4 linked regions of the Homo sapiens genome follow. The protein of the gene in region 1 interacts with the protein of each later gene in a pairwise test. Each region holds a gene or a part of one and is shown on either strand. Other genes may lie near its edges.

The links.
Region 2: the proteins of CACNB4 (region 1) and PTN interact in a two-hybrid assay, tested with the Homo sapiens proteins (one large-scale study listed by BioGRID and IntAct).
Region 3: the proteins of CACNB4 (region 1) and EFHC2 interact in binary tests that used the Homo sapiens proteins (3 or more experiments, as listed by UniProt).
Region 4: the proteins of CACNB4 (region 1) and CCDC102B interact in binary tests that used the Homo sapiens proteins (3 or more experiments, as listed by UniProt).

Annotation. Positions count from the first base shown.
Region 1 is NC_000002.12:152,092,545-152,096,044, forward strand, and holds part of CACNB4 (voltage-dependent L-type calcium channel subunit beta-4), read right to left. Parts: intron 1-3,500. UniProt on the Homo sapiens protein: The beta subunit of voltage-dependent calcium channels contributes to the function of the calcium channel by increasing peak calcium current, shifting the voltage dependencies of activation and inactivation, modulating G protein inhibition and controlling the alpha-1 subunit membrane targeting.
Region 2 is NC_000007.14:137,232,234-137,235,733, forward strand, and holds part of PTN (pleiotrophin isoform 1 precursor), read right to left. Parts: intron 1-3,500.
Region 3 is NC_000023.11:44,172,673-44,176,172, reverse strand, and holds part of EFHC2 (EF-hand domain-containing family member C2), read left to right. Parts: intron 1-3,500. UniProt on the Homo sapiens protein: Microtubule inner protein (MIP) part of the dynein-decorated doublet microtubules (DMTs) in cilia axoneme, which is required for motile cilia beating.
Region 4 is NC_000018.10:68,892,080-68,895,579, forward strand, and holds part of CCDC102B (coiled-coil domain-containing protein 102B), read left to right. Parts: intron 1-3,500. UniProt on the Homo sapiens protein: During interphase, forms fibers at the proximal ends of centrioles to maintain centrosome cohesion. During mitosis, dissociates from the centrosome following phosphorylation to allow centrosome separation. Contributes to CROCC/rootletin filament formation.

The DNA of each region.
Region 1 (3,500 bases):
TGCAACCATATCTTCCATTCCATATGCTCTTTTTTTTTAATGAAATATTATTATACATTATTCTGTAACTTACTTTTTTCACTTGAATGCATTTCAAATGAATGTCTTAAATGCATTTCCATATCATTACACGCAGGGTGGCTTTATTTTTTTCTTTAATGGCTGAATAGTACTCTGTAGTATAATATATAGTAGTCCACCCTTAACCGTGGGGGATACATTCCAAGACCCCAGTGGATGCCTGGAACTACAGATAGTAACAAACCATATATACATTTACATATATATACATATATATATATAATGTTTTTTCCTATACATATATACCTAAGATGAAGTCTAATTTGTAAATTAGGCACAGTAAGAGATTAATAACAACTAATAATAAAACAGAACAATGTTAACAATATGTCATAATAAAAGTTATATGAAATGTAGTCTCTTTCTCATTCTCAAAATAGCTACTGTACTGTACTCACCTACATTCAGACCTCAGTTGACCGCAGGTAACTGAAACCAGGGAATGCAAAAATATGGATGAGGGCCCCAATGTACATTATTTGCTCATTTACTGACTGCTGCATACATATATTGTTTCTAGTTTCTCTGCTCAGTGTGATGTTTGCTGTGGATTTTAGTAGATAATTTTTATTAGATTTAGGGAGCTGCCTTCTCTTCTTTTTTTAAAATCACGTGCCTCTAGATATGCTCTATTCTTAACTTACAAAATTTATCAAATACTTTTTTGGCACCTACTGAAATCAACATATATTTTTCTTTAATTTGTTATATAAATTGAATAATCTTTACATTCCTGTTTATACTATTGGCACTGAATTTGACTTGCTGTTTTTTGGTGTGTGTGTGTGTGTGTGTGTGTGTGTGTATTTTTACCCATATGCTCTTTTATAACGTGACCTTGTTGCACCCCATCAAAAGATAGTCTGTTTTCTCTTTTGTTGCAACTGAGCAGGCTCTTGGACCTGTTTTGACTTGAGTTTGCAAGACAAGTGATACAGTGTAGCTTTCAAAACTGGGTCTTAGGAGAGCTGTGGCTTCAGCCTTCACTTCTTGGAACCTAGCCACCATATTATCCGGGAGCTCAAGCAACCATGTTGAGAGGCCCAGGTGGAGAAAAACTGAGCCGCTGCCAAAAGCTCTAGTTGAGTTCTCAGCCAGCAGCCAGCACCAACTGCCAACCACATGTGTGAGGCCACTCTGGACCTTCCAGCCATCCCAGTGCCCATATAACATCATACAATGCAGAACTGTCTGGTTAGTACACAGAAATAAAAAATTGTTGTTGTTTCAAGCCACAGAGTTTTGGGGGAGGTTAGGAGGCAATTTCTCCCCACTAAACAAAGCATTTAATGTTGGAGCAGAACCTCATGCCTAAAATATATCAAGTTAGTTCTCCATCCATCCACTGCTTCATTCATTCAAGTGTGTGTTTATTGAACATATACTATGCTAGATGCTGAGGACACAAAGATCAAATGCAGACATGTCCCTGTCCTTGTGGAACTCATACGGATGGGGAGACAGAATGTAACAGAGAAATCTAAGTACATGTTAAATAAAAGCGGTGGTGCTACTGAAAACTGGCACAAGGCCCTCTGGGAGCCCCTTGTTGGGGAACTGACTTTATCAGGAAGGTTAGAAGAGGAAGTGAAGACTAAACCCCCAGATCTCAGGGAAGATTAAAAGTTAACTAGGCAGAAGGAAGGACAACAACCTGCCACACAGAGGGCTCAGCATATGCAAAGGACCAGTGGCAAGAGGGAAGACAGTGTGTTCAAACTCTGTGTCCAGAGCTAAGAGATCATGGCTCAAGATGAGGCTGGAAGCAGGCAGGGGCCAGGCCAGGTATGACTTTGCTGGCCTCATAAGAGCAGACTTAACAAGGAAAAGTCAACAAACTATTCCCACTCTGATCAGATTTTCTCTTCAAACCCCAGTGGGAAGAGGACTAACTTGGAGTACTCAGCCGTATAAACTGTATGTGTAGTGACACCCATGGGTAGATATACTTATGGATATATAATAGATACTCGGGGTACATGGTCATTGAGCCCGCCCTCTCGTTCCTTGTTACATGTCACCGTACTGTTTGTAGACATCTCTGTCTCCATTGCTAGATTATAAAAATCTTTGAGTACAGGGGCTGTGTCTCATCCATCTTTTCATTCCTCCCCTACAATATCTAACATAGTGCTAGGCACATAGCAAATACTTAAGTGTTTCCTAAAACTTTAAAATATGACTAGATAATCCATTCATAAATAGCCTGTAAGAAGGGCTCTCCTGAAAGAAAATTCTATGGCCTCATTTGGAAAGCCACTCCAATGATGGCAACACTCTTAGGAAGGTCTTGCTGTAAAACATCATTCCTTTCTAATTTGGGCCAGTTCTTGAGTTTCATCCCCAATGAAGAGTGAGAACACTTCATCACATTTCCAAAGAAAGCCTTTGTGTGTACTTTGAAGATCATTTCTGGGTCACTCCTAGCTTTCTTTCCTTTCAGCGGCAAAGTACTTCATCTTCTCACCTTTCCTCAAAGAAGCCATTTATTTGCTCCCTGGATTCATTCCAAAACCTCCATCCCTCCTAAATGGTGGAAGCCAGAAATCTTGTAGACCAGAAACAAGGTCAAAGATTCCTGAGGGGCTTCATGAGCAGTCCTCAGAGTGGAAGCAGGCTCTCTTTCTCAGTCTGCTTGTTTTCCAGCCAATTCAAATGTTCATGTGTGTGCATGCACACATATGTGCATATATAGTCTCAGAAACACTGAAACTTTTTAACAAGCTCAAAGAACAAATATTGTCTTATTGGGTGAGTTGCCAACTGCCTTCTCTGCTTCACCAACAGCCCAGTCTTCCCCATCCAATGTAACACATCGATTTTTTTTTTAATGAAAGCTTTTCTCCATATTTTTGTAAATAATATGATAAAGAAACTAGCAATATATATATTTTTTGGTATTCCACTATCTTCTTCAAAGGCATCACAAAGACTGTGAAACAGCACCAAGAAATTTCATCACTCCAATGTATCAAGAATTCAAATATCAATAAATCACTGGTCATTCTACAAATAATGAGACTCTGTTTTTGTTTGTTTGTTTGTTTGATGGAGTCCTGCTCTGTCGCCCGGCTGGAATGCTGTGGAGCAATACTGGCTCACTGCAACCTCCACCGCCTAGGTTCAAAAAATTCTCCTGCCTCAGCCTCCCGAGTAGCTGGGATTACAAGCACACACCACCACGCTTGGCAAATTTCTTTGTATTTTTAGTACAGTCGGGGTTTCACCATGCTACCAGGCTGGTTTGAAACTCCTGACCTCAAGTGATCCGCCCACCTCAGCCTCCCAAAGTGCTGGGATTACAGGCGTGAGCCACTGTGACCAGCCCAAGGCTCTGTTAACGTAAGCAGCTGTTATGCTTTCATAAAAAATATTTTTTGGCATTGGGGTGATTTCAATTTTATCCGAAAGTTATTGTT
Region 2 (3,500 bases), on another chromosome or scaffold:
AAGTAAAGGGCACCTGCCTGAAAGGTGACTTGTTCTGTTCCTACCAGGACATCACTGCACTGGAATCTCACAGCAGTGCCCTGGGTAGATTTTAACTTCCTGGGTTTTCAAACTTTCATCCTTTCTTTGGCCAGTTTTTGAGTTGATAGAGGCTAGTACTCATAATAATTGGGATACAGAGATGAGAAAAAATAGTAGGTGTGTATTTTTGTAACTTTGTGGGGGGTTTTTAAATACAAATACATTGTTTTAAGATACGTTTGAAAGTGTTCAGAAAGTCCTAAGGCTTTACTAAGAAAAAGTACTCTAGAAAGGATTCAGGCTTCTTACATTGCTATGAATCATAGGATCCAAAGGGCCATGTTCACCATATTCAATCTAGAAAACTCAGAATTTATCCAAGGAAATTCTTTGAATGCATAACAACTCCTGATAAGAAAGAAGACAGGCAGTGATATGGTTTGACTCTGTGTCCCCACCCAAATCTCACCTTGAATTGTAATCCCCATAATCCCCATGTGTCAAGGGCAGGACCAGATGGAGGTAATTGGATCATGGCGGCAGTTTCCCCCATGCTATTCTGTGATAGTGAGTGAGTCTTATGAGAGTTGATGGTTTTATAAGTGTCTGGCATCTCCCCTGCTTGCATTCATTCTCTTTCCTGCCACCCTGTGAAGAGGTGCCTTCCGCCATGATTGTATGTTTCCTGAGGTCTCCCCAGCTATGTGGAACTGTGAGGGAATTAAACCTCTTTTCTTTATAGATTACCCAGTTCTGGGTATTTCTTCATAGCAGCACGAGAATGGGCTAATACAGTAAATGCAGTGAGAAGAATGAGTAGAAATTAATATGAGCCGTGTTACAATTCTGAGCCCATGTGTTTTTTTCTATGCTGAATAGAAAACAAAATCTTGATAAATGCTAACGTATTAAGTGACACCATGGCCTTTAGGTACGGTGAGACAATGAAAAAATCATGAAGTTTTGTTAGAATCATACTAAGAACTAAGCCCTAATCTAGAGAATTGGTTCAAATAGATGTTTGCCACTTACCAGCTCTGTGATCTTGTGCAGATCAATCATTCTGCCTCTGTTTCCTATAAACTGGGGATAATAAAACCTATATCCTCCTCAGAGGGCCAGTGTTAGTATCATGTGAGATTATGTCCTCTGCAATCTCATCTTACCACTAATGTTCAAAACACATTAATTTATTGATTCAGCAAATATGCACTCCATCTCCACTGTTTTAGACGCTAGGGTATAAAGGTGAACAAGACAAAACTCTGCCTTCACACAGCTGACATTACAAACAACACTTTCAAGGTGGCTTTATGGGAGAGTCTTTCAAAATTGTAAAGTGCTTTAAAGTACATATTTATATTAAAGATCATGGGTATGTGGCAGCTATTTTTATGGTTTTGAGACCTGGTTTTCTTGTTGCTAATTTACTACTACAATCCAGAGACATGTGTTGTGAAAAATAGAGCAGCCACAAGGAGAATGAATTACTAGAAAGAAAGAGTATACCTACAGTAGATTTACCCTGAAGGAAAAGGAGGGTTTCTCCTCTTGGGGTTATTTCATTCTTCTTAAAAAATATTAATTACTTGTCTCATTTAAAAAGTATTACAGACTCATATAAAAACCAAAGAAACACACACACACACACACACATACATATATGTATATATGTATACATATATATGTATATGTACACGTATACATATACATATATATGTATATATATACACACACACATACATAGAGAGAGAGAGATTACTCATAACTTCACAATGTAGAAACAACACTTTTAACGAGTTCTATTTATGTTTTCTTTCTATGACTTTACTTAGGAATATATTGACAGTTGATATAGTATTTTATGCTAAAAATTCAATTGTATCTATTTTCCATGTCATTGCATATACTTTGAAATGTGACCAAGTAATATTCCTTTATATTATCCTACTCCATATATTTTGTAACCTTTCATCTTTTGTACATCAGTTGGATAGTTCTGACCTCTTGTTATTATAAATAATGATGCAATGCTGATTTTGTTCACAAATCATCGAATGCTTAAATTTTGCCTTAGTATAGATTATTAGAAAAGGATGTACTGGATCCAAGGGCAGGACATTTTAAAAACTCCAGATATGTGTCGGGAAATTTATTTTTTGAAAGGAAGTAGTAATTTAAATTCTTATCAGCAATTTATATGAGTCTATCACAGCAAAGTTACTCTTGAAAGGCAAATAATCAGACAACAAGCATCATCTGTTTTCTATCTTTTCACAAGCCTTTTGGAAATAGAATTGCCATGTAGTTGGTATAAGTAAACATCAACTCCCCACTTTCAATATTAAGAAAATCTGGGAGAAATCAGATTGGAAGTGGGCCTTAAGAGAAAGACATCTGTTTAAAGATTGTTCAAAGACCTTAAGGGGACATGTTTTTCAAGAAGTGAGAAAGTTGAGAATTCTGAAATAAGCTTATCTCATTTTCTCAGTAAAAGGTCTTGCTTTGATTACTTATTTTCAGATGGCCTGCTGTGTATACAGAAAAACTAAAAAGGAAATTAGGAGATGAAATGATTTCAGATTGAGGGGAGCCCAGATTTTAACTAAAGTGACTCAGGCCCTGTTCGCTGCTGACTTAAATAAAGTGTCTTTGGGTTATTAAAGCAGTGGGAGGAAGTATTGATTAGAATAGAAATACAAAATGTGCACCTTCTAAGAGATAGAATTCATTTTAGCTAAAAGAAGCTAAAATCATTCAGAAATGCACATTGCAGAGGTCAAGAGAGACAGCTGAAAAGGAACAGTTGGAGGCATACCATCAAGACCACTGAAAGTTCACTTTTGGAGACTTGTTCAATAAATCACAAGGACTTATCACAGAAAAAGGATCATATCCCTGTCAAACAGTACCATCGCAACGTAAATATGTTCAAAAGCCTGCATATCACCAAGATCCTTTTAATGCTTTGTGAACCGATTTAAAGTAACTCACCTGTGCTTAAGAATTAACTGCCTAGTCATCTAGAACTACCTAATCCCTCGCCCCACGTCAGCTATGCCTCAGAACTGATAACAAGGCTTGTCGAATTGTGAACATACAGCTCAGTGATTCAGGAACTAAAATCCAGGTACTGGTTGGCTAGGCTGCCTAACGTGGCACTGTTCATTCAATTTCCAAATATTTCAGTTTAAATGAGTAGCATAAATTAAGTGGCAAAATACAGAAACATATTTCTGTTAAAAATCAAAAGTATCATCTTTTAAACATTTGCTTAATGTGTTATTCACAGATGTAGTTCAGTCCAATGCCTATGCAATAATTTTGTTGTTTCTTCTTTGATTTCCTATTTTGTAGCATCAATTGTTTCATTTCCTCTTTTATGGACTCAATGCATTTACTTCTACGATATGTGTGGAAAACATGTGTACATGCATACTGCCCCTCAGTGCTACCCACATGCTGATACTTTGCTTCAT
Region 3 (3,500 bases), on another chromosome or scaffold:
TTATTGGTGACCTGCCTCCATTTAAGTGTTACAGAAGGAAAAGTTTGTCTTGATTTTGAATGTTAGAGAGCCTATTACAAATTATTATTTTATCTTTTTAACATGAATACACACTTATAGATCCACAGATTCCTGGGACAAAATGAAATACACAACTTTGTTGGTTAGGAGGACATTAGATGTAAAATTCAGGGCAGGTTTTTCAAAGCAGCAGTTCCTGATAGCTATAGACATGCAGTAAGAGAACCTAGGGTTATTAGCATGGGGCTCTGTCCTGATAGAGCACCAGATGTAAAACATAGAGATTATGATGCTATAAAATGAGAGCATGGTGAACTGCTTTCTAAAACACATCAGTTCTCCTGTTGAACCTGACTTTTGATTTCCTGGCATGTCCCTCTCAGCCACCTAGACTCTGGCCATCTCTTATGCTTCCTATAGCATCACTCACTCTAGCTCCTCCTCTGACTTATATATCTTGATAATTCTGACATTTTCAGCTGTGTTCTAGGCATTGTGATCATTGTTTTGGATATATTATCTCATTTACTTTTTGAGAACAGCTTGGTGAGGTCGAAACTGTTATCCTTCTTATCTCATACGTAAGGATGCTGAGGTTTAGAGAGATGAGGTATTTTGCCCAAAGTCACATAGTGTAGAAGAAGAAGAGCTCTGATTTGAATCCTGAACTTTTCAAATGCACATCCTCTGCTTCTAATCATTTTGAGTTACTGTCTACAAATAGCCAGTAGATTAGGATGTCTTGACAGTTCTACCTCCTCCTTACTGCTTGCTTCTACTCTCTCCTCTCCATTTCCACTATCATCATTCTTGTTCTGACCCACATTGCTTCTTAAATACTGCGGTGCCACCACATTGGTCTTTCATCCACCAGTGTCTAAATGTTTAAATCCATCTTTACATATAGCAGCTAAGTACCTTCTAAGAGCAAAAATGTATGTCATCTTATTGCACTTTTACTCACAAACCTTCTGTGGTGTCTCTTTGCTCTCTAAGGAAGGACCAGCTCTTTAACTTTGAATTAAGCTCCTTCTCCATAGTGGGGCTTAGGGTTCGCAGCTGGAGCATTGTTCTCAAATAGGGTCTGAAGTAGGGAGTCCTTGTTTGAGACAAAAGGAGAAACCAAAGGAACAGATAAAGCCAAATTCTATGTCAGGGAACTAGGGTCCAAGGTATCAGGAGGGAAACCCAGAAGAGGGCAAATCTAGTTGGATGTGTATGTGCATTGAATCAACCTGGAATAATTTTCTAGATTATCAGTTCTATTTGTTTTGTTTTGATTTTGTTTTTGTTTAACTCTATTTGCTTTTATTTGCTAGCAGCCGTGTGAGGGATCCTGCCGTGAAGGAACTGAGATGAAGTAGGCAGGCCTTGGACTCAGAGTTCTTCACAGATATCATCCCCCACTCCCAAAACTCCCCTTCCTGTTCCCAGTAGTCCAGCCACATGGGCCGTTTAGCATATTACACATATACCTCCTGCCTTCCCCCTCCCCCCCCCTTTTTTTTTTGGCCTTTTCCCTTGCTATTTCATCAGTAGGCAATAGCTCCCAATGGTTTTCACTTGCTGAAAGCTTGCTCTTCCTTCAAGACCCATTTCAAGTGGCACCATATCCATGAAGCTCTGTTGCATTCGTTTGGCTGATAATCAGAGTGATTATCTCCTGCTCAGAATTCTCACAGTGCTATTTATGTGTCTCTTTATCCCTTACCTTGGAATGAAGAGTTGTGACTTGAACTTCGATTCATTCAGATGCAGACACTGCTTCTGTGTGATTTACCACCTATAAATAACCAATGGGTTGTCACATCCTGACAATTTTACCCCCCTCCTCCACTCCCATCTCTTAAATTCTTTGAGTCCACTTATTAGCTGTGTGATCTTGTGCAAGGGTTTTGACCTGCCTGAACCTCAGATTCCTTATCTCTCGAATGACGTAACAGTACCTATTTCCTAGTGGTTCAGAGGATTAATTGAGATAACATACATAAAGTACCCAGCACAGTACCTGGTGCAAAGAATTGATTGAGGACTAGGAGAGAAATTTAAGTCAGGGACCATAGACCACACACTCAGACTTAGAAATGAACTGGAAGAAACCTGTGTCTTTCTATGTAGAGGAAGCCATGTTTTTCAACAATTGGATCTGAATGCCTTTCACACATTAAGCTGTCTTCTAGTCAGGAAGCTGTGGATGTTTATTAGATTATCTTTTGATGGTCTTAAGGATGAGTTGTCCTGGAAAGTCCAGTAATGTGGGAGCCTGGCCTCTGGAGGACCTACATGTTTCTTATCCAGTGCTGAGGCCACCAAGTCATCATCCTCTCATTCTCTCAGCAGACTGTTTTGTCTTTGCCTTTACGATTTGACATTAAATGCAAAAAGATTGTTTCAGAACTTGCTTCGAAGTCATCTCAGTCTCTGAACACATCTGTCTCCAAGCCCAGCTTAGCTTTGAGGAGGTCATCCCGCTCAGCTGCTAAGCAGACCATGTTCAGTCTAACTTTGCCTCTAATTGTGCAGTGACCCTTCTCCACACTCAGGGGAAACTTCAGACTAATCAGATTAGAAAATGTCTCATTCCCATTCCCCTCTCCCTCCAATATGCCCTGCCATGATTTGGGTCACATGCTTAGTGTTTTGCATCATCTCTGCAGATTCCTTTCAAAGACTGCCCTAATTCCTAATGGGCCCATCAGCCTGCAGCTTACATTTATATTCTGCATTCTTATTGTTCCCCACAGACTCCACAGGGCTTTACAGAGCCCTGACCAGAGTCTCTTTCTGCACAGCCCTCCTTATGGCACGCTAAGCCAGAGCCCCCTCTGACGTCTACAGTCTCCCGTGGGAGGCAGGCATGGAGCTTGTTGATTTTGTTCAATGCATGCTCTTGCCCAGGAATAGTTTTACCTGCCTTGGAATGGAGCTGGGCAGCTGCTGAGCAGCCGTGTAACCCTGCTGTGTAAATTCAGATCAGGAGATGAAAAACAATATGGCTAAAGGGTTGGATGCTTTCTTTCACCCAGTAATTGTTACCCATGTATTTCTCCTAACCCTATATTTTGGTACCAGGATTTTCCTTCTACTCCATTCCCATTTTTCTTATAATTCAGCTTGATCTTTTCCTTATTATGTTAACATAACTCAAACTGGAATCAGGACTTCAAAACCTTTTTGTACCTGGTTACCTCAGCCCCTGTCAGTTTGTGCTGTGGGAGCTGGTATAAGGTCACCTTACTTACCAAGCAAATTCATTTCATTAATGCACAGAGCATCAGACTTAAATGTTCTATATAGTGGTAGCGATTATCCATTAATAATAGGAGTGATACTTTGTATTGATGTAGTGCTAAGGGCCTTAGAATATTTTGTAAATTTTTGAGCATATTAAAAGGTACATTTTAATTGGCAGTAGGCATTATTCCTCATTTCATAAGTATAAACTCTGAGAGTCTCTCACTGAAAGACTGTGCTCCAGG
Region 4 (3,500 bases), on another chromosome or scaffold:
GCTTTTGGGTAGGAGGATGAAAATCAATTTGTCTTATGATTCTTTGATAATTCCCTTAATATCAACTTCTTGCTTTCCTCCTGTCCCTTTCCAGGAAGTTTCTAAATGACAGCCCTGCTTTCCAAGATACCCCTTGCAATCTAGAGTGCTACCCATGACCTTGAAAAACCTGAAAACAATGACCCTTGTACTTTCTAATCTCCTTTATTACATTTCTGATAGTAGCTTGTGTTCTGGCTCTCCAGGTCTGAGATCTGTTCTCAGTTATTTCCCTGCTTAAGGTGATGTGGCTACCTTTACAGGACATCCACCATAGCGCATGTTTTCTCTTCTGCACCATCCCCATCTGACTCTGCTCCCACATGGTCTCCAGAGAAGTCTCTGCTGCCCTCAGACATTTATTGCACCTCTTACATATCCGTCAAGTTTCTATAAGTCTAAGCCTCTTTATTGTGTTGACAGGTTTGCAGCTACCAGTGATTTTATTTTTTTCTCATTTTTGATCTTTGGAGGTTGGCTTGAGAGAGTGAGATTTAGTCTGTGTTCACGTTCTAAACTATGCAATTTTCAAAGGATACTATTTTATAGCCATAGTCATCTATTTTTGTATTGATTACAAAAAATTACTTTAAGAGACTGATTTATTTGGATATTACAAAACAGACATCTAAATAAGTCTAGCAAATAAATTCAATGTAATTTAAGACTGAAAGATAAACACATTCAAATCTTGAGGGATACTGCAAAGCTTAAAAATAGGTATAACATCAATACATATGTAAGGAAATAGTTGTGTCTGGCATTAGACAATGGCTCTCATATCTCAATTACAGGGAGTGTAGTTGAACCCAGCTGCTACCTTCTGAATATTTGCAAATCAATTACTGGAACATTCACATTGGTTTTAGGTGACTCTTCACTGGCCTGCCAAGTGGCATATAGTGCATTCTTTTGGGAGTTTTCTCCATTGACTAGGTCCATTTAAAAAGTGATTGTCATCTTGGTACAACTTGAGGAAAAAGTAAATACACTATTTTGTATCTGAAGTGGCTGTTGATGTTTTCTTCTTTAGGAAATAAATTTATGACTTTAGACATTTTTGAGTTGAATTTGGAAGTTAATAAATATTTTCTCTAAATGATTTCAGTTCTCCCTCATAACACTAGGTTGTAGGAAAGAGTTTTCTTATGTTATAAAAAAGAAAAATTGAGGCAATCAGTCTAAAAGGAGAATTGGGACTCATCTGTAGGTTATTTTATTAAAAATCCTCTCTGCCTCACTGTGTTCACTACTATAAAATGTAAAACAGCTCTGGCAATAGCAGTAAGAGTTCAGAGCCAATGTACGGAGAAGTCCTTTTCATGTTATGTTATGGTAAGTCTAGTAACTGGATTCTTTTAGAGTGCTGTCTTAATTTTGCTTTGTGTGTAATCATTGTCATTGAAATACAGAAGGGCTTTTTCCTGGAGACTGTCATTATCTGCTTTCTCTTTCACTTAACAGTTATTTATGGAGCACACATACAGTGTGTGTCTGGTGCTGGGCTTATGAGCAAAATGACACAGTCCTGGTTTCATAAAGCTTACATTCCAGTTGTTGTTAATGATTACAATTGTCAGTATCTTTTCAACAATATCAAGCCATGGCAGTTGAAGAATGAGTAAATAGCTATGTTTAGAAAATGATCCAATGTTTTATCCTTCGGAATAATCACAATATTACAGTTTTTACAAGCAACTCAACTGATTCTGATATTCATACTTATTTTTCAGAACCAGTCCGTGTTTGTCCAGTTTCCTTTTATACCATGTTCTCCCCAAATCCTAACATTCCATAACTGCACAGACTCTTCTTGGTCTTGCACTGTTCAAACATTTTTCTTGCTTTCTGTGCTTGGTACACTCTGGGTCTGGCTGTGCTTTTCTGCCTTATTAAACTTCAATTTGCAGCTTAAATATCAATCATTTCCTCAAACAACCTTCTCCTTTTACCTGATTTATTGCAGGCCTTTCTATGACACTCAATTTTTTTTCCTTTGTAAAAAGATGCCCAATGTTACTCATATTCTATTTGTATTTTTAAAGTCATATATTCAGTTCCTCTTTGTTTCTTGATACATAAATAAGCTCAATAAATATTCATTCAGTAAGTGTAGTATTGGATATTTATGTACTTTTTCTCGACGTTTAATAAGAAATTGATGTCATTAAGTGAACAAATATTTTAGTGCTTACTGTACAAAGAATGTACTTTTACATTAAAATTTTCAGAAAACAGGTTTCAGTAATTTCTGCATTATCTGAAATTCATTTAATGCTAGAACACGCTATTGGTTAAAATTCACAGTTGAGTTAGAATTAAAATATTTTAGGAGTTTCTCTTCATCATCAGAAGCAAAGCAATGGAATTCTATTTCCATTTGATAAAATTATTGTAATTTTTATGATAAACTCTGAGAGCTTAAAATATTACCTGACTTTTTATTTATCATTTTAAGGTACATGCAATTAAATGCTTTTTAAGTTAGTGAATTTTCATATGATTCTTGGAAAAGAATGATGTGATAAGAAACAGTTTTACAAAATAAAAACTAAAACTTCTTATAATTTTATAAGACTTTTACTTTTTAATATATGTTATACACATATATTTATCAAATAATTTGTATGTTTTGATAAATCTGCCAATAGTAAAACATCAGAAGGCATTATTTAAGCTTTGTTGTTGCTACTGCTAAAATCATTACTTAAAAAAAATCTTAAGAGTTAAAATTTATTCATTCAGACCATGTATTACTTATTTAAAACCTTGGTTCTACTTGTTATCTGTTATTTAATGTTAAATCAATTTATTTAATTTTAACATTTAAAAGAATACTGCAAGTTCACAAAGACTTGACACAGCATATTTGTCCTTGCCCAAAAATACATTTGCTCTCCTTATATTAATTTTTCATTGCTAAGTTGCTGCCTTCTTGTGGCAACTTTATCATTTTTATTCTGATAAGTGAGGCAATGATAGAAACTTTAAGTATTAATCTTAACAATGAAAGTAATGGCAGGTACTAAATTAAATTGTGATATAATATTTTCACCTCATATTCCCAAACAAGCATCCCAAATGTCAAACTACATCATCTAAAATTTGACCCTTAGTTTATTATATATAATTGGTAAATGAGGTCTAGTGCCAAGAATGTAATTTTGGTTTCCTACATTTTGGAAGCCAGAACATCTCTTAGATTTGGGAACAGAACATTTTCTACAATAATGGTACAATTATATATATATGAAAAAGCAGTTTTTAGGCTTTTATATCATAATTTATTATGATACTATAAAGGATATTGTTGAAATGTAACATTTTTCTAAATGTTGACTAAGTTGTTGGGCTTTTAGAATTTAGCATGTCATAGCAACAGATTTTATAACAGTATAATAATTATAAAGTATGTTGCAATGAAGCCATTATAATCAACAATGTTAAAACAAGTAATTTAG